4 separate regions of the Homo sapiens genome follow, and regions 2, 3 and 4 are each reported to be linked to region 1. Evidence: microRNA targets listed by miRTarBase, many of them from high-throughput screens and not tested one by one. Region 1 holds a microRNA gene; each other region holds the end of a gene's coding sequence. Distances are from middle to middle.
What was found. Region 1 holds the annotated microRNA hsa-miR-6832-3p (ACCCUUUUUCUCUUUCCCAG, at 3,146-3,165, opposite strand). A microRNA usually pairs through its seed, bases 2 to 8, with sites in the 3' UTR of a target mRNA and lowers its output. Matches are read on the target gene's strand: a 7mer-m8 pairs with bases 2 to 8, a 7mer-A1 pairs with bases 2 to 7 and ends in A, and an 8mer does both.

Region 2: miRTarBase lists SGTB as a target of hsa-miR-6832-3p. Seed matches in the 3' UTR shown: 7mer-m8 at 1,699-1,705 and 7mer-A1 at 3,524-3,530.
Region 3: the mRNA of JAG2 is a reported target of hsa-miR-6832-3p. The part of its 3' UTR that is shown has no 7-base or 8-base seed match.
Region 4: the mRNA of SAMD5 is a reported target of hsa-miR-6832-3p. Seed matches in the 3' UTR shown: 7mer-m8 at 4,056-4,062, 8mer at 4,027-4,034, 7mer-m8 at 2,005-2,011 and 7mer-A1 at 1,715-1,721.

Annotation. Positions count from the first base shown.
Region 1 is chr6:31,631,934-31,637,003 of GRCh38, reverse strand. MIR6832 (microRNA 6832) reads right to left here and starts at 3,217; the gene lies at 3,146-3,217. PRRC2A (proline rich coiled-coil 2A) reads right to left here. Exons shown (of 31, transcript NM_004638.4): 16 at 4,012-5,070; 17 at 3,357-3,625; 18 at 3,015-3,145; 19 at 2,639-2,768; 20 at 2,447-2,532; 21 at 2,027-2,251; 22 at 1,732-1,872; 23 at 1,539-1,610; 24 at 1,255-1,422; 25 at 955-1,037; 26 at 585-795; 27 at 396-494; 28 at 59-271. RefSeq lists a silencer at 2,162-2,325.
Region 2 is chr5:65,665,713-65,670,782 of GRCh38, reverse strand. It overlaps SGTB (small glutamine rich tetratricopeptide repeat co-chaperone beta), which reads left to right. Exons shown (of 11, transcript NM_019072.3): 11 at 426-4,855. The coding sequence ends at 537. It overlaps TRAPPC13 (trafficking protein particle complex subunit 13), which reads right to left. Exons shown (of 13, transcript NM_024941.4): 13 at 4,550-5,070. Among named protein-coding and RNA genes, the nearest start is that of TRAPPC13, 43 kb to the right of the region's middle.
Region 3 is chr14:105,138,322-105,143,391 of GRCh38, reverse strand. It overlaps JAG2 (jagged canonical Notch ligand 2), which reads left to right. Exons shown (of 26, transcript NM_002226.5): 26 at 222-2,397. The coding sequence ends at 697. Among named protein-coding and RNA genes, the nearest start is that of MIR6765, 10 kb to the left of the region's middle.
Region 4 is chr6:147,563,499-147,568,568 of GRCh38, reverse strand. SAMD5 (sterile alpha motif domain containing 5) reads right to left here. Exons shown (of 2, transcript NM_001030060.3): 2 at 1-4,175. The coding sequence ends at 4,113. Among named protein-coding and RNA genes, the nearest start is that of SAMD5, 57 kb to the right of the region's middle.

The sequences.
Region 1 (5,070 bases):
ACAGAATCCCTACTCCCAAGTCTTGGCGCTCCCTAGCCCCTCAGTTCCTGTACCTTACCTCTGCTCGCCCCAAGCTAGCGGGGAAGGGCCTGGCAGGTGAAGGCAGCACCCGAGTAGCAGGAGCAGGTGGGGGCCGCACAGCCAGGCTGGGGGGCTGCAGAGCAGGGCCCACAGGTAACAGAGAAAGGGGAGGTGGGGCAGGAGGTGGTGCTGGCGGCAGGGAGCCAAAGTTCACCACAGGCAGCTGTGAGTCTACCATGGGTAGAAGCATCTGTAACAAGAAATTTGGGTGTGCATGTTGGGGGCAGGGAGGAATGTCAGAAAACCAGGGAAAATCAAAGCCAGCAACTGGACAGAGAAATCAAATGAAGGGGAAGTGTGAAGATACAATATACCTGCTGGGCAGGAGCCCCTGAAGGGAGAAAGCCACTTTGGCCACCAGGCTGCAGAGGAGTAGAATAAAAATCCGAAGGGGATGGCAGATCCTGGCGTACCTGTCGGGAAACAGGGAGAAATATATCAACCCCCACAAAATCATTCTCCCTACCCTATCCCCCAATATCTAATACCTGCCCCCCTCTTACCTGAAGCAACGATGTGTCAGGCAAAGGACTGGGGCAGAAAGCCGGAGAGTAGAGGAAGGAAGGTGGAGGGTAGAGAACTCCTCCAGCCGGCAACTTCCCCAGCTCTGTAGCTTGCATTGTGGAGAAATCCAGAAACTGGCCCTTGAGAGCTAACCCAGAGAGCAGTGCTGAGGGAGGGGCTGGGCCGGGGGGTAGGTATAGGGGCTGTGATCTGAAAATAAATTGTGGGGAGAAAAGCTGTTAGGAAGCCAGAGTCCTAGCAATGCCTTAAGTCCACTAGCTTCTAGTACCCTAGAACTGTGTCTTCCCCTTCCCTCTCCCCGAAACACATCTCCAAGTACTTCTGTGATCCACAGGCATCGAGTCTTACCTGTAAGGGTGCAGTGAGGGTGTCCCAGGGCGGAAGCCTCCACTGTTTGGATGTAATTGAGAGTCCATGGCTCCCCCAGAGATCTGCAGGAGAGGAGCACGGTTGAAACAGCTTTAGTATCTGTGGTCAAGAAAAAAGATCACCATCCCACCCATAGAAGCAAAAAGTAGGGAGAAAAATGATGTGACAAAGTGGTATCTCACAACTCTGCAACGTAGAAAGGCTTGATTATAAATACATACCAGGCAGAAAAAAATTATTATTCACTGAAGGGGTCATGCAATGGGAAGCGGGGCCTACCTGAGAACTGGAAGGCCCAGCACTGCCATAGAAAACCTCAGGATACAGGCGCTGGCCTGAGGAGCTGGGCTCCGGGACACAGTGCCCAGAATCCAGGTTCTTGGATTGTGGCTCAGCAGAGGCAGCAGCACTGGGAAGCAGCTCCCAGTCTCGTGATACAGGAATGGCCTGGGAAGGAGAGGCCTCGTGGAGAGGGATGTCTGGCATCCTGGACGCCCTGGTCACTCCCAGCAATCTTCCCCAGAAATCTTGGGCCTTTCCACCAAACTCTTACTCCCACTTACCTCAGTGACTGATGCTGTTAGCTCCTTCTCTGCTTTCAAGCTGTCTCCTACCACTAGGCGTAAGTCTGAGTCCTGTGATCACAAGAAGGCAGGAGACATTGTCCCGTGACAGACATGTGTCCTCTATGTCCCACCTTTAGTCCTTCCCTTCTCTCCACCCAACTCAGGATACCCAGATCCAGCCCACACAGACCTTGTCACTAGTGCCAAACTGGACTGGGGGACCAGGTCGATGGGATGGCCGAATGGGGCCAGGCTCTGTGCCTCGGTCTGTACGCTGTGATCGTTCTGTGCCAATGGGGCCAGGGGGCAGAGGCTGCTCCCGGGGCAGCTCCTGGATTGGGCACACAGTAAAGTGCATTGGGGGAGGGAAAGGGAAATCCAAATTGGAATGCCCAGAACACACACGCAGAGAGAAAAAGCAGAAAAAGGTAGGGCCAAAGTCAGATTCCTGGAAACATTCCCCTTATCCTTTTTTGGTCTTTTACCTTTCTGTCCCCATCGTGGGGGGCAGGTGGTGGTCTCCTAGGAGGTTCAGAGCCAGGTGGACCCTCACAAGGAACAGCATTCAGGGGTGAGGAGCCTCCAGGCCTCTTGGGGGGTCCCTCTGCTGCCCCCTTGAGTCCTCCATCAGGGGAACTTCGCTGGCTGCAGGGACCTGATGACACCTGAGAATCCCCACTCAGGTCCACCCCACTGTCAGACTGACTCATCTGAGAGGAGTGGAGAAGGAGCTAGTTAAGTCAGGGTAGAAAGCACCCCAATACCTGACTGATGCACACATACAAACTGCAGAAAGGGGACAGCCAAGTGAGAGAACAGCTCCAGACTCAACCCAGAGCAGGTGGGGGGTATGACCAGTGCTCAAAAAAGTCCCAGCTCAGACACACCCTCCCACCCTCACTCACTTCTGTGCCAGCCACATCCTCAAAAGGACTCAGGGGCTCCATCCAAGGCTCCATGGAGCTGGGCCGGTAACTCTTTCGGCTAGTGGCTGGAGAAGGGAGCACCAACCAGAAGAGAAGTGAGGAGATGACAGTTCAGAAGCCCCTCTCATTCTTAACCCTTCTACCATAGTCCTTTCACTCAGCTTTACTCACCAGTATGTAAACGGTTCCAGATGTGAGGGGTCAGGGCCTCTGTGCCTGTATCTCTGGACTCTGCCTGAGGGCCTGGGCCCTCAGGCTTAGAGCCCAAGAATCCAGAGCTATGAGGAGGTGGCAAAGATTCCTACAGATGAGAAGGGCCAGAAGCAAAACATGAATTGGGTGGGAATTGGGAATTATAGGAAGCCAGGACAGAGTGGGGTGACACAGGGTGTGGGGACAACAAGGGAGACACATGGGAGACTAATACTGAGAATTCTGGAGTAAAAACACAGTGAAAGAAACAGGAAAGAAAACAGAGAAAACATAACCCAGAAGAATTTTCACGAGTAAGAGTGCAGTGAAGCACAATCTCAAACCCATCCCTTACCTCCTGTAGCAGCTCTGGTTTTCTGGGAGGCCGCTCCCGACGTTTAGGGGGAAAGGGACTAACCCCGGCAGAGTCCCGAGGAGTCCCACCCACCCCTCTCACCATTGGCCCCGGCTCCTCAAAGTGGGGGTCTGGGAAAGAGAAAAAGGGTCAGCATCTGCCTGGCTCTGCCACTGACCCTAACTTTTCCTCTCTACTCCACCTCCCAATTCTTCTACCCTTGCTCCCTGCAGAAACGCACCCAGCAGCAGGGTCCCTAGGCCAGGTTCTCCACCCGCTCCCTCCAGCACTTGACCTTCTCTGGGGATGGAGATATTCCCACCCATAACCCCTCCAGCTTACCAGAACTGAGGCCGCTGTTGACCCTCTGGGGCTCGTATCGGGTTGGGGGCCTAGGAGAGGGGCCCTGAGGGGCTTGGGGAAGCCCAGGCTTGTGCCTTGGATGACCCCCTGGTGCAGTTACACTCCCTTGACGGCTACTAAGCTGGGCCAGAGCCTGTTGGATGCCAGCAGGGTTGCTGTGGATAACTTGGTCCAGGCGGAAGACAGCAGAACTGCTGGGAGGTGGGGGAGGCAGGGGAAGCCCCGGGGGACGCTCCTCTGGAGGACGACTGGAGAAAACAGAGCATTAGCTCCAGTATCCACTAAATCGTTACTTTTTCCCACAAGTTATGTTTCCCAACTTCTGCTTACAACCTATTCTCTTCCCTATTAAAGTCCAGGTGTTTTTGAGTCCTTCTAAGGATTCCTATGCATACAGATGCACAGACTGGAAAGCAAAGAACCAGCAATGAATACATAGGTGGGTGTTCTTGACTCTAACACCCTACCAACCGCTTTCCAGTTGCCTTAGCCAGACATGGAAATCCTACTGACATTCTAGAGCCCATGGCCCCTCAGGCCACAATCTCCACTCCACCCAAACTTATCTTTCCCTCAGGCTTTTTCCCCCTCCTCCAATTTTTAAACCACAATAAATTTGTTTGTTCCTACCCACCTTCGGTTCTTGGGAGAGGGCCAGCTCCTCTTGTCGCCTCGTCCTGGCCCGGTCCTTCCTCCAGGACCCCCACCGCCTCCTCCACTGCTGCTGCCACTGCTGCCAGCCTTGCCCCCTGGGCCAGGGCGCCGATTCTGCCGTTCCATGCCTGGCCGCTGACTTGAGAAGCTCCGTTTACTCAAATCCTTGGCTCTCTGGCTCAGATCTCCGCGGGACATGGCTGAAATACCTGGTACGGCTCCACCTCCACCTCCCCCAGGAGTTCCCACAGCCTTGGGTGTCAGCAGTACTGGTGGGGGTGCCTCTTTGTCCCCTCGGCGCTCACTGGTGAAGTCACTGCTCTCTGATGCAGTCTCCCATTCCTCATTGGCTTGGTCTGAGTTCTGGTTTGACAGATCAGGAGACTTGGCAGCTGCCCGGCGAGGTGCTGGGGCCACTGTGACTGTTGTGAGGGCCTCCTCAGGTCCAGGAGCGGAGGCTGGAAGGGTTAGGGAGGGCTTGCCCTCAGACCCCCTTGCGGCATTCTCCCGTTCCTGCTTCAGCCTCCGGAAACGAGGCGGTTTATCCTGCTGCTGAGCCCTCCCATGTCGCCTCCTTCGGGGTCGCTCCCCATCTTCCATGCCCACATTGCTACCTCCATTGCTGCCTCCGCGCGCCACAGGGGACAGAGGCCCTGGGATCAACTTCTCTTTCAAAGGCTCCTTACTTGGTGGCAAAGGGCCTGTGGGAGGTTTCTTGGGAGCCAGAGACTTGGCTGGAGGGCTCCAGCCTGGGCAAACTTGAGGAGGGGGCCTCCCTCCTCCTCGGCCCCGGCGAGATGGCACCCCTCTGGGAGTGAAGACTCGCCCACCCCGGGCAGTGAAGCGGGCTGGGGCTGGTGAAGGTGGGGCTCCTGGTGGTGGGGGAGCGAGAGGGACCTGGGTGAGTGTTCCCTCCTTGGGTGTGGGAGCCTCCTTGTCTGAAGGAGCCAGATCACTCTCATGGGTCTCGCTGCCTGTTTCTGAGCCCCGCTGCCGGCGCCGCTTGGGGATTTCCTCATACTCTGAACCCTCGCTCCGT
Region 2 (5,070 bases), not on the chromosome of region 1:
GTGTTAAACTTCTTAGTGTTTTTAAAATTACTTGTTAGGTGACCTCCAAAAGCATCCCAAACTGGGTGTTATATGAGACTATTAAGACTTGGGTATAAAAGCATTGTATTTGAGCACATACAATAAAAACATATACGTCTTACCCTTTGCTTCTTTGTCATTAGCACTAGAGAAGTAGATTTCACCCAGTTGAGGTACTTATTTTTTTTAGCATGGGTGTTTTGTTTCTTATAAAGAACACTGCATTGTAATAATGCTATATGGAGGCATTGGTAAACTTGTAGATTCTAAAGTCATGGCTCTGAAACTTGTTTTTATAGAAAAAAGCCCCCTTTAGGTAGCTCCTACATTTTCTGCATTTCTTTTTGCGTGGGTAAATGTGACTGGCAATTCCCTATTCAAACCACATTGCCTCTTTACTACAGGGGACAGCAGTTTGCTCAGCAGATACAGCAACAAAATCCTGAACTTATAGAGCAACTGAGAAATCACATCCGGAGCAGATCATTCAGCAGCAGCGCTGAAGAGCATTCCTGATTTAACCAGGGGCTCAAGCCCAAGATACAAATGGTTTATGGCTATGAATGAAGTATTTGTTGTAGATAGTACCCCCTCCCTCCTTCAAAAAACCAAACACCATATCTGATGTGTGAAAATAATGGAGGAAAACCTCTTGTGTATATTCTTAAAGAATAAATCTGTTTAGACAATAGGTTTATCACAAACAAACTCAAAACATAACATGACTCCTTTTGAAATGATCACTAGCCATGTTACGTGCCAATATAGCACTGGGATAAGGTTCCATTTTCAAACTTCTATCATATTTGTATATTAGACTTAATAGCAAAGCATATTTATTGAACTCTAGTAGGGCTATTTGTTGGTAAGCTCTTTAGCTCCAATTTCCCTTAAGCAAAGTTTTTTGAGAAGGGAAATGACCCAAAGGAAAGGTTTCCTATGCTGGTTGAGAAGAAGTGTACTTGCCACTGAGCAGTATGTCAGGAAAGAAGGAATATTATCTAGGTTTAGCTTTGATAAGTGCTATTAGTAATGAATATATAACATGGGAACCAATGTTATCTTTAATGTTGCTTGTTCTGGTGAACAGAGAATCTTAAGAGCTGTTAGAAAGTAGCACTTGATGCAAGGGATGTTTTGAAAAGAAAAAATTGGTAATGCGAATGTATAGAAAGTAAAGGTAGGATGCTCAGGTTTTCTGCATAGTTCTTAACTAATCTTGTCTGCAGTTTGGTATTGATAATATTAGCATGGCCACTTATGCTAAATACACAATAAGATACATTTAGAAATCCTTAATGTACTGGTTAGGTCAGTGGTACAACTGTTTGACTTAATTATCACAATTTCCCCAATGGTAACCTTACCTTGGAAACTATCAAATATAAATATACTTTAACTAAGCCAGTGACCTGGTCCTAAGTTAAGGATTTTCTAAATGGTATTTAATTGTGTGCCCATAAACACTGATTTTTTTTAAAAAGAAAACTTAGTAATTATTTGATGGATAACAAAAAGCATCTATCACTAACATTGCTTGTTCATGTAATCTTCTGTGATAATTTGGCTTGGCATGCCAGTCTTATAATTAACATAATTTAAATTTGATGCAATTTAAATATAACAGGAGACTTAAAATATTTTATTATAAATTAGATGCCATATTAGTTAGTGGAGAAAAGGGGCATTAGGTATTAATTGCATGGGTCTAACTACATTGATGATGAGAGTTTAATTCCAACTAGAGTATATTTTTTGTTTATTAATAATGAAATTGGTGCTGACATGTAATGACTTCACAAGTTTTACGAGGGAAAACTGAAAAAGGAAGTAATATAAATTTTGTGGGGTTTTTTTGAGATGGAGTCTTACTCTTTTGCCAGGCTAGAGTGGTGTTGCAATGTCAGCTCACTGCAACCTCCACCTCCTGGATTCAAGTGATTCTCGAGCCTTAAGCTCCCAAGTAGCTGGGATTACGGGCGCCCACCACCACGCCCAGCTAATTTTTTTTTTTTTTTTCTTGAGATGGAGTCTCTCTCTGTCGCCAGGCTGGAGTGCAGTGGCGCAATCGCGGCTCACTGCAACCTCTGCCTCCCGGGTTCAAGTGATTCTCCTGCCTCAGCCTCCTGAGTAGCTGGGATTACAGGCACGTGTCACCATGCCCAGCTAATTTTTGTATTTTTAGTAGAGACGGGGTTTCACCATGTTTGCCAGGATTGTCTCAATCTCTTGACCTCGTGATCCGCCTGCCTTGGCCTCCCAAATGCTGGGATTACAGGCGTGAGCCACCGTGCCTGGCCGCTAATTTTTGTTTTTAATGGAGAGAGTTCCACCGTATCGGCCAGGCTGGTCTCGAACTCCTGACCTCAAGTGATCTGCCCATCTTGGCCCCTCAAAGTGCTGGGATTAGAGGTGTGAGCCACTGTGCCTGGCCAGGAAGTAATATACAATTAAATGAGTAATAATGCAGATGATTAGGCCTTATAGAACCCTTATCAAAAGACTAATTGGCCGGGCGCTGTGGCTCATGCCTGTAATCCCAGCACTTTGGGAGGCCAAGGCAGGGGGGATCACCTGAGGTCAGGAGTTTGAGACCAGCCTGGCCAACATGGTGAAACCCACCTCTACTGAAAATACAAAAATTAGCCTGGCTTGGTGGCGGGCACCCGTAGTCCCAGCTACTTGGGAGGCTGAAGCATGAGAATTGCTCGAACCTGAGAGGCAGAGGTTGCAGTGAGCCAAGATTGCGCCACTGCACTCCAGCCTGGGTGACAGAGCAAGACTCCATTTCAAAAAAAAAAAAAAAAAGAAAAAGAGACTAAGAGACTAATTATTTTGTATCTTGAAGTTTAAAATCCAACTTTTCTCTTTCTCCTTTGTGACATTAGAACAGTAGTTCTATAACTTCATTGTAAGAATCACCTGGATAATTCATTAAAGATGCAGATTCAGGGCCACGTGTTCAATTCTGATACAGTAGGTCCTGTAATAAGGCCTAGGAATGGCCATTTTTAAACAGTACACTAGGTGGTTTTGATACAGATCCAAGGACTCTAATTTAGAGGAACACTAGGTTAGAGGTTTCTCAGACCTGCAAACACCTAAGCACCTGGGCCAAACAAAGCTACAACGAAGATCTGTATGAAGATATATAGTTCTGCAGAATTTAAAAAGAGCACAATTTAAGTCTTCGGCCCTCAGAAGTTAAATTCATATTCCATCTAAGCCAACTTTGATTTTCATTAAGTTAGAATGAACTCCTAGTATTCCAGTATTACACAGAACGAAGTACTACTACTAACACATAGAAGTCATTACTGTGATATAAAAAGCAAAATAGATCCTTAATTAAAAATTAGTCACTCATATTCAGTGTTGAATAAGAAGTTAAAGTTTCTAGCATAACTATCTTGAGTGCATTAAAAATGCTTTTAGAGCAATAAGATAAGCTTCTAGCTGACTGCCTAGAAAAACAGAAGATACAAATTCAGTGTCAGAAATGAAAGGGAATACACTACAGACACTATAGTTATTAAAAGGCTAACTAGAAAACACCATGACCAACTCAAGGATTGTATATTTAACAACTTAGATGAAACAGATTCCCTATAGGATACAAACTAGAAAGCTCACTGTAGAAACAGATAACCTAAACAGAACCATATTTATTAAGGAAATTGAGTTTGTGGTTAAGTTAAAAACCTTCCAGTAAAGAAAACTACAGGCCCAGATAACTTCCGTGATGAATTTTACCAAACACTTAAGGGAGAAATAATATCAATTCTAAACAATCTCTTCCAGGAAACAGAAGAGGAGGAAATACTTCCCAACTCATTTTATTTGACCAGTATTACCCAGACAAAGATACTATAAGAAAAAAAACTTTAAAACAATGTCTTCATGTGCTAACATCTGTAGTTAAATTAGCCATTCTTTTTACATGAAATAATGGGAATTGGTATATTTCTTCCATTTCATTTTTCTATTTCTTTGCTAATATACCACCTGTAACAAATTCAATCTAGATGCTATCTGTCCACTTGCCTACATTTCCATTCTATTCAAGCCATTTTTGCTCTTCAAGTACCTTGATCACTTTGGAATCATAGCATTGCAAGCTATTTCAAAAAAAGTTGCGTGGTTGGATTGTGCTAGCTACTTTTAAATTTATAAAAAATGCCCCATATATTTTCTTGCTTGTCTGGGAAATATAGTTGCTATCTAACTAGAAAAATAAGAGGGCATTATTAAAGTAACTCTTTAAGCATCGTACTAAATGTTTGACTTCCATTAACCATATTTCTTGTAGTAGCTGTAGCTATTATGATACTGTGTAAAACAGAACAGGTTCTATATATGCAAATGACATTTTCATTTAATGTACCAAATTGTGTATCTAACTTTTATAATATAGGTTAAACAGATCCTTTCTAAGATGGCATTATTTAATCTTTACTTAAAACTATGAAAAATATGTGTAAGTTATTGTTTATAAACAGAAGAGACTATAATTAAAATATAGAGCAGATTCCAAGTGACCATCATTTTACTTTTTAGATTTAAAACAGAATGAAACAGAAGATTTAGTCATAAGAAGATGCTTGAAAAACAATCCAAGTATCCAATGCAGTGGCTATAAAATATTATTTCATCATTTAATCTTAATCATTTTGAAACAAAGACAGACTTCAATTTTACACTGCTTGCACTTTATTTTGTACAGACATTTCATTAATTATTACTCAATTTTGAGGTGCAAACCTTCTGAATATAGCTTTCATTTTGGACCAAACAATTTGTTATGGCAATAAATAATGATGCATTGAAAAACCAATTTTTGTATTTGATTTAATGCACTCTTACATTTAAGAAATTATATATACATTCTTGAATTTCAACTTACCAAAATAGAATAGCTTTTATTTAACAGCCTAAGCTTTTGTTTTCCTGACAAATACTGAAACTTTTTGTTACATTAATGCTGCAAAGTTGTTTATCACCTCAACTTTCTCACTGCTTTGCTCATAACTAAGTGTGATTACATGGAGA
Region 3 (5,070 bases), not on the chromosome of region 1:
CCACCAGGAACACAGAAGTCCCTGGCACCTGCTGCCCCAGCCGCCCAGCCCCACAACCTGACCTTCCCAGCCCCCGTCCTGGGACCCTCCCCACGAGCCAGCAACCGGAGGGTGGGGCCCGGCCGCCTGGCCCGCAGGGCCCTCCCAGGCCTGGGTGTGTGGCTAGTGCCCCGCAGGTGCCCAGGCCTCATTGCCCACCGGCTCTTCTCCCCGGTCCCCAGGTCTGCTGGTGCCTGTGCTGTGTGGTGCCTTCAGCGTGCTGTGGCTGGCGTGCGTGGTCCTGTGCGTGTGGTGGACACGCAAGCGCAGGAAAGAGCGGGAGAGGAGCCGGCTGCCGCGGGAGGAGAGCGCCAACAACCAGTGGGCCCCGCTCAACCCCATCCGCAACCCCATTGAGCGGCCGGGGGGCCACAAGGACGTGCTCTACCAGTGCAAGAACTTCACGCCGCCGCCGCGCAGGGCGGACGAGGCGCTGCCCGGGCCGGCCGGCCACGCGGCCGTCAGGGAGGATGAGGAGGACGAGGATCTGGGCCGCGGTGAGGAGGACTCCCTGGAGGCGGAGAAGTTCCTCTCACACAAATTCACCAAAGATCCTGGCCGCTCGCCGGGGAGGCCGGCCCACTGGGCCTCAGGCCCCAAAGTGGACAACCGCGCGGTCAGGAGCATCAATGAGGCCCGCTACGCCGGCAAGGAGTAGGGGCGGCTGCCAGCTGGGCCGGGACCCAGGGCCCTCGGTGGGAGCCATGCCGTCTGCCGGACCCGGAGGCCGAGGCCATGTGCATAGTTTCTTTATTTTGTGTAAAAAAACCACCAAAAACAAAAACCAAATGTTTATTTTCTACGTTTCTTTAACCTTGTATAAATTATTCAGTAACTGTCAGGCTGAAAACAATGGAGTATTCTCGGATAGTTGCTATTTTTGTAAAGTTTCCGTGCGTGGCACTCGCTGTATGAAAGGAGAGAGCAAAGGGTGTCTGCGTCGTCACCAAATCGTAGCGTTTGTTACCAGAGGTTGTGCACTGTTTACAGAATCTTCCTTTTATTCCTCACTCGGGTTTCTCTGTGGCTCCAGGCCAAAGTGCCGGTGAGACCCATGGCTGTGTTGGTGTGGCCCATGGCTGTTGGTGGGACCCGTGGCTGATGGTGTGGCCTGTGGCTGTCGGTGGGACTCGTGGCTGTCAATGGGACCTGTGGCTGTCGGTGGGACCTACGGTGGTCGGTGGGACCCTGGTTATTGATGTGGCCCTGGCTGCCGGCACGGCCCGTGGCTGTTGACGCACCTGTGGTTGTTAGTGGGGCCTGAGGTCATCGGCGTGGCCCAAGGCTGGCAGGTCAACCTCGCGCTTGCTGGCCAGTCCACCCTGCCTGCCGTCTGTGCTTCCTCCTGCCCAGAACGCCCGCTCCAGCGATCTCTCCACTGTGCTTTCAGAAGTGCCCTTCCTGCTGCGCAGTTCTCCCATCCTGGGACGGCGGCAGTATTGAAGCTCGTGACAAGTGCCTTCACACAGACCCCTCGCAACTGTCCACGCGTGCCGTGGCACCAGGCGCTGCCCACCTGCCGGCCCCGGCCGCCCCTCCTCGTGAAAGTGCATTTTTGTAAATGTGTACATATTAAAGGAAGCACTCTGTATATTTGATTGAATAATGCCACCATTCCGGCCTCCCTTGTTCTTTCGGTGCTGTCCCTTTTGTATTGAGAGTGAGGTTGGGGGAGAGCCACGCCGGCAGAGAGGCTTGGGGCAGTGGGGCGCGTGCTGGGTATTGGCCCACGTGGCTGTGGTGGCTGTAGAGGGCGAGACGGTTCTGTTGAGTCGGGGCCTGCCAGGGCCTCGAATGCGTTGGCATGCCAAGGTGGTGGATGCAGGTTTGGCCAAAACCTTCCTGGGAATGGGGAGGGGGGTGTCTAGGTGCCTGGCACCCGACCCTGACTAAAACAGCTGAAAACAGTTTTATAAAATAGTATAAAATTGCTTACCCACGAATACGTATCAAGGTCTTAAGGAATTAACAGGTCAAAATTTTTATTCATTCATTTATTCCTTTGTTTTGCTTGGTCATTCAGAGGCAAGGTCAGCATTTGATGGAGGCAGGAGAGAAGCAGCCCTTCCACCTGGCCCTGGAGCTGGTTTTGCCCCTCACTGCTTGAGCCAACTGGAACGTGGCATGGTGGCCTCAGGGCTGGGCATGGAAGGCCGACTCCAAGGCTGACTCCGAGCCGCCTGTCAGTGATGTGCAAGTCTTTACCCTGCTGTGAGGGGTAGGAGGTCAACTGAGTCAAGGAGCAAAGCCAAGAACCAGATCTGTACAAAAGAGAAAAAAAAAGTCCTGCTGACAGCCTGGGAGTGAGGCTGCCTTGCACAGGCAGAACAAATGAATAAATGAATGAACGAATAAAAATTTTGACCTGGTAATTCCTTAAGACCCGCTCGTTGCTGCAGAAGTTACTCTGGATGTCTGTTGTTGAGCACTGCTGCTGTGGACTCCAGGAAGCCATGCAAATGAGCTATGGTGTGCACTAGAGGGACAGTCTCCCTCACTCCGGCTGGAGTCCTCCCATCGGCTTCTCCATTGTATTGAGCCAGGTCTGCAGGGACACACAGAGGAGCTGGTAGGAGACCCTGCTTGCCATCAGTTGCTCACAAGCCCAAGGCTTGTGCCCTCAGGGTGGGGGCAAGGGTTAAACCCACCTCCTGCCGTGGCCCCAAGGGGTTGGCCAGGCAGTTCAGGCAGAAGGGCAGCCACTGAGGAGTCGTGTACACCATGACTCGTGTGGACCTGAAGCCCATGTTCCCACCACCAGGTTGGCCAAAAAGACGGCAGGCTTTGAGTTTCCTTTTAAACGGTGTGTACCTAACTTGCAGTTCCCTAGGTTCCTGGTAGAACCAAATGCAAATCACCTTTGTCCTAGACATCTGTACACCTCATGAATGAGTTTTCCAGGTCAGTGAGTAGACCACAATCAAACCAAGTACACGGGAACCTGGCACCATGATCGAAAGCCATGAGAAATGTGTGCAGAGGCATCCGAGTGTACTGGAATTCTCAGACATGGATTGTAAAAAGCTTGCTGTGCTCAAAGATGGCTTGGAAAAGCTGATAGGCCAAACTTCAACCTAGCACCAAGTAGAACTTCTAGAAATGGAAAAAAAAATACAGCCTTCAAACCAAACACTCCAGAAGTAGTTTGGCAGCCACGCTTAGACACTGCTAAAGAGAGAATTTGTGAACTAGAAGACAGGTGAGAAGAAATGATCCAGGCTGCCCCCCAGGACAAGAGATAGAAAATAGCATCAGCAGCTGAGGAGGGGGCCCCAGGCAAGGGCCTGGCAGGGGCTGTCCTGAGGCCCACAGGAGCCCATCAGGCATAGGGTGAGCAGTAAGTAGGTGCGGCAGGTATAGCGGGTGTCATAGGTGGGGCTGGGTTGCCCAGTTACTTCTGCAGGAAGTGTCCCACAGGCCTGGCCCTTTCTGGCTGTGCCAATGTGTTCCCCAGATTCTGGGGAAGCCCCTGTAACCTCCGGGAGATGCATCTGGCTTGGAGTCTCACAGGACGTAGTCTGGCCTCCATGCCCGTGTAAGGGTGTGTGGCTGTTGGAGGTGGAGGGGTGGCACTCAGGGATCATTCATGCACCAAGTGTGCATGGGTTGAGCTGAGAGCCTCTGCAGTTGCCTGCGTGTGTCCATGGTGGGCGGGCCTGCCGCCCCCCACCCTGAGCTCGCCATCCAGTGTCCTGAGCCCACTGGGAGTTCATGGCCTCCCTCCACCCCATACTCAGTCATAACCCCCCACTTAGGGGACCTTGCACCTTTTCAGGCCTGGCTGGTGCCTGGCCATGGCCAGCCCATGTGGATGGCAGTGTCAAGAGGTCCAGGCCCGGCCAGCAGGCTTCCTGCTTGCTGTCTCACGCCATGTCAGGGCAGACGATGGGGCTCTTCTTCATCTCAGTGCTACTGCCCCCATGGTGTGGTCATGAAGCCGGGCTAGGTTCTGGCCCAACCCCCTGGGGTAAGCCTGGCAGTCCCTGCCCTCAGACCCTAGGCCACCTCCACACCTCCTGAGTGCCACTCACCTGCCTCACAGAGTCCGCTATGCAGAGGCCAGGGTCCACAAGTGAGGGTTAGGCCTCAGGGTCCATCCTGCTGCCACCAAAGCCTTGTTCCCTTGTGGGTGGGTGGGTGGGTGGGTGAGTGGCTGCCCCCAGAGAGGGCGCTGTGTGGTCAGCAAATCTAGCGAAGAAAGGCAGGCTCCCTGGCACCCCCAGGCTGGTGCTAGGCCCCTGGGGCCCCTCTGGCTGTGGCTGCAGGAACCCCGGTGGTCACCCCTACTCTGGCCGCTGGGCTTGGGACCTGTGCCACTCCTGTTTGCCCCTCAGGACACACAGGCGTGCCCTGCTACCCGTCCTGGCTGCCAAGTTCCTGGAGCCCGCTGTGTCTTGCACTGCCATGAAGCGGGGGCCCCCAACGGCCAGTCTCCCCACTGCCTCCACTCTTTGCTCTTCCTGTTGACAGGTCTGGGGCTGTGACCTGCCATACAGAGGGAGAGCTCCTCTGTCACTGGGGCACATGTCCCCAAAATGAGCACCTGGGCCTCCCCAAGCCTGGTGGGCAGTGAGCTTGGGGGACACCAGGCTCCGAGGCATGTGCCGGCGACTGGCGGGGCAGGGCCTGTTCCCCACACTTTGGAGCTGCTCCCAGCTGGGCCCAGAGGCTACATGGCTGTTGGCTTTGTGGCTCGGATGGGAAGGGTCTGGATGCAGAGGGAACTTTGAGGTGGCCACTGCAGCCCCGGGGGGTGCCTGGCTGAGGCGGCCCTGGGCAGCAGGCGCTCACTCAGGCAGAGGGTTACAGGGAGCCGTGCCACCACCCCTGCCACCACTTTCCAGGCAGAGTGACCTGTGCACAAAGGCCAACCTGCAGGCTAGACGGCGTGGGCGGGGCCATGTGCGCACATGCCCCGGAGACTCCTGCCTCTTCTCATTCTGCACCGTCAGAGCAGGGAGCAAAGGGTCGGCCCTGCCTGGCCTGGCCCGAGGGGTGCGTCCTGACCGCGCTGTCTGACCCAGCCTGGGA
Region 4 (5,070 bases), 120 Mb from region 1:
ACTTGGTCTGAGAATTGGCAATGTAGGGTCAGACTTTCACTTATTTCTCTTATTTTCCCTAGATGCAATGTTCCACCCTTCATGCCTTATTTGCCTTGAAATTCAGAACTTCCACCTGCCTAAACCTATTTTGATACCTAATCAAATATTACTTGTAAGAATCTATATAAAGCAAATGTTTTGTCCAAGCATTTTAATTATGTTAACTTCTTTTTTTATTTTTCAACCCCCTGTGCAAGAGACCTGTTACAATACTCAGGCTCTTATAAGGGAAAAATTCAGACATGCTCATATCAATTTTCAAGCAGGTGCTTTCCAGTCCCTGGTATATCTGGTTTTTCTTTTCATAGAAAAGAGTTTGCCGATCCACCATCATCTGCTTTGTATCTTGGTTGGATTCTTCCCAGAAGATGCTATCGGGGAACAGCCCATTTGCACTCCTAATTTGTAAATCAGTCATAAAATCAGAGGAAAATATACATATGTCACTCACTCATTTGTACCTCAAATTCATCAATCTGAAGCTGCCATAAAGAGAAGAAAGCTAATGAAATACCTTCATATAATCTGTCCATGTGCCTATTTCCCCAGACTTGAAAACTGCTGGCCTTTATGAATTTGCTGTTTTGTTTTGTTTTGTTTTGTTTTGAGACGGGATCTTGCTCTGTTGCCCAGGATGGAGTGTTATTGTTTCCTTAAATCAAATTCTTTTCATTCAATCAATAAACATTTACTGAACTCCTATGAGCAGGTACTGTAGCCTTTTTTATCCTTCCTGAGAGAAATCAAAGGGGACTTATTCAGTGGGTTTCAGGCAATGATAAGGAAATGTCAATTTATGTCTGAGTTTTCTAGTCAGCTTTAAGGTAATCTCTTCTGCATAAGAAGAAATAAGACAACTGAGAGTAAAGAAGGGAAGGGAGAGAGGCAGTCAGCACCTGCTACATGCCTAGCACTGAGCCAAGGACTGTATGTGGGTGTAAGCCATAGAACTCTTAAGCCTCTTAAGAGCTATAGAGGTATTTATTTTTCCCATTTTACAGACAAGGGAAAAGAAGCTTTAATGAGTTTCATAACTGTTCAAGATGATTCCCCAAGCTACACTATAGCTTACATCCTTAACAGATTCACCGCAGGAAAATACTACTAGAATAATTTTAGAATTTAAACTCAGATCTGAGTAACTCCAAAGTGAAAGCTCAATGCTTGTTGTTGTCATTGTTTATTGCATAACACCAAGATGCTATAAATATCTCTGAACTGAGAAATTGCTCGTATGCTCCCAGTTGAGAAACTACTATCCTTTGTTGCTATAAATTCAGTTTTCCCCACAATTACTGGTTCAGCTCCCACTTGGGTAAGGAAGAAGCCCTTAACATTACGCCTTCCCTATGCCAAGAAATCTTTTATGTGAATAAAATCTTTTTTTACCTCCCTAAATTTTAAGATGAACTAAAGAAAATTTTGCTATGACCCTCCAGACTCCTCAATATTATCAAGTGAAAGTCTGTAATTAATCTCTTTTAATACTCTAGGAAATGTAAATCAAGATAATCCCCTAGTTTTTATAACATATTTATTCTTAGTCAATTGCTACTTCTTTTATATTCAAAAATTAAGTATATTATTGGTGTTTAGATACAGAGGAAAAACGCTGAAAAAATTACTCCTTCTAAGACTAACTGTCCCCAGATACAATTCATGGTAAAAATAATCCCTTTCTCTTATATTCTACCTCTTACCTCATCTTGATTTTAATGCAAAGGAATTCGTGGGCATCCTTCAATACTTCTTTGCTTATTTGAAGTTTTCTTCCTCTAGCTTTAACTAAGATGTCTTTTTAAAATCCATTGGCTTTTTTTGCTGACTGTGACTCTTACTTTAAGCAGAGCATTGTTATTTTCAAATTCTAACCACAGACACAGAGAGAAGGTTTAAACCTGGCAAAATAATTGAAGTTAGATATTACTCTAATAGAAAATAAAACTTGAAATGACCAAGGAACCCTTTTTCCATTGCAGTAGATTGCCTCATAAGGCCCACAGTGAAAATAACAGATTTTTCAAAAATTGAGTCCTTCCTAGCAAAGTTCAACAAGTACATGCAAATGTACATCTGTGAAATAAATCAGCCACGGATGCGACACCTGGAAATGAGGTCAAACAGGAAGCCATTTGTTATCACAATAAATTATATCTGTAATCTATACAGACTCCCCTACCACTCAAAAGAATCTACTTAGGAATTTTAAAGACCCTAGTTCATTTGGAAAAAAAAAAAAGATGAAAGGTTAACTGGAATATAATCCTGATGAAACTAAAAGCTTTTGTATAATTTAAGGACAACCTATACATGCTTTTAAAATTTAACTTCCTTACATTTGTATATGATAATGAGACTGATTTTAGTCAGTGCCTGAATTAACCTACAGAAATAGCTAAACTATTTAAACTTCAGATTTTTAAAGCAGTATTGTGTTAAAATTGTCCTTAGAAACCTAATATCCTTCTTAATGGCCTATCTATTCTTAGGAACCAAAATGGACCAGGAAAAAGTGAATGTAAGTTTCTTTTCCTTTGAGAGTTTCTTATTCTTCTTACCATGACGGTGCCGATGGGAACTTACATCTTGTACATTCTTCTAAGTAGTAGATTCCGTAATGCAGTACTACTTGGGAGCTCTAAACAATTGACAGCCTCAGGAGCCAGTTGTACGTCAACATCTTTTGCCATGGCTTCTTTCAACTAAGTTTTTGGTCCCATCAACATGGTTGCGTTTTCTAAGCAGAAAATAAAACTACCAGCATCCAGGCCGGGTGTGATGGCTCACGCCTGTAATCCCAGCGCTACTGGAGGCCACGGCGAGTGGATCATTTGAGGCCAGGAGTTCAAGAACAGCCTGGCCAACATGGTAAAACCCCATCTCTACTAAAAATACAAAAAAATTAGCTGGGTGTGGTGATGCGTGCCTGTAATCCCAGCTACCAAGAGGCCGAGGCAGGAGAATTCCTTGAACCTGGGAGGCGAAAGTCACTGTGAGCCAAGATTGTGCCACTACACTCCAGCCTGGGTGACAGAGCGAGACTCTGTCTAAAAAAAAAAAAACTACCAGCATCCAAACACAAGAACGATAAGACGATAAGAATTAGAAAAACTCTAGATTCCTGTTAATTTCCTCCCCCCACCTCAATCTACTTTCTTTTTCAGCCGTAGTTCTACAGGGCTCCTCAGGCCACTGCCGCTGCCCACCTCCCGGCCCCCACAGGCCTGAAGTCAGAAGCCTGGAGAGCAAGGTGGGATAAAGCACTGCAGCTCAGAACAGGCTGTGAGCTGCGGCCCTGGCAGTCTCCACAGAGTGCAAGAAACTAGCTATGAAGTAAAATAGCTAGCTCTTGCTTGATGCATGTCAGAGCAAGACACTTGTATTAGTCCTAATACTAAACCTCAGCCAGATTAAATTTAAAAAGAGAAGTTAGAAGAAATTGTCCTCTCTTGGTGATGTTCCTTAATTCATCACCTTTAACATTGTACCAATATACAAAATAACTATATAAAAGCACCTTAAAATAAGAATTCCTTCACCAAACTATTCTACATAGAATTATGTATCTTATCTTATAAAAACATGGTCCTATATGAAATGAAGTAGAATGTATGCTTGAATATAAAAATTAAAGCTACTGTTCTCAAGTTAAAAGCAAATTTGGAAATAATATAATTACTACTTACTGTCAGAAATCTACCTTTTTGTTATATTGTACTTAAACTAAGTTATGACTCAAATGCCTTAGCCAACCTCATCTGTTTTCATTAAGAATGGAAGGGAGAATGCCAAGAAATGCATAAGACTGTATCTCATCATGATATCTTCTTAAAAAAATGAACTCAATACTTCTTTATGCGTGATAGTTCACTGCCTTATTTCTAGCTGTTATAAGCCAGTTACCCAGTTTACTAAGTTGATTATTCCAGAATTTGTCCAAGCAAAAAGTTAAGCTGATGAGTATTTCCAGGGTCATCATCCATTTCCCTTTTTGAAAGAAGGTTCTAAATATGCCCTTTTCCAGTCTTCAGGCACCTCATCAGTCCTCCACGAGGTCTCAAAAATGATATCTAGCGGCTCTGTGATGACTTCGGCCAATTCATTAAGTACTCTAGGATGCCAGCCATTGGGACCTGTGGATTTGAACATATCTGGGTTATTGAAGTTCTCCTTTACCCATTCTTCCCCTAGTCCATCATGGATTTCTGCTCCTATTTTTAAGTCATTCTTGTCCCTTTCTGCTTACCACATGGACTTTTGAAGAACAGCCCTAAGAGTTTTTGCTTGTTATCTATCAATTTTCTCTTTCAAGCTAATTAAAAAAGAATGCATTTTATCCTTGTCAAGCCTATATTTTGTTTAAAAAGGCCTACTTTATTTTCCTTTTATGTTCCTTCTAAGAGGTGGAAACTTAAAAAAAAATGGTTAGATAAAAATATACCTTGTAATAGTTTGCATTCCTAAGTCACATTACTCAGTACTACACGTTAGCAACGTTAGTACTAGAGCAATAGTCAATACATTGTGAGACATTCCAAAGGCGACCTATCTCATGCTGGAAGAGCACTTATCTTTTCAACTTGTAGCTGCAAGTGCTAGTTTGAAATGCATCTTCCAAAGTAAAAATGATTCACAGTCATATTTAATCATTATCATCTGTATGTATAAACAGTAACTTTTTCACATAGGCATGTAAAAACCATAGTTGCACGTGAGCTGGAAAGAGGTTAATTAAGTATTTCTTACAAAGCAGCAACCTAGTCGAATTCATTTGCTGTGTGGTCTTTGCCATCAAAGTTCTTGGGTTTATATTACACTAATTATCTCCAAGCTCTGATAGGTGTTGACAGTTTTAACCCCTTCATTGTCACAATGATCCCTCTGAAATTGAAAGGCAGCAGTAGATTACAGTGCACTGCCCATCTGTCATGGCTCTGCTGTGTGCCCACAATCCCTTGACAGATCTAGATGGACAAAGAAGAGGAAGAAAAGGAAAGTTGGAAGGAAGAAGGATGCCTGAGTCTTTCC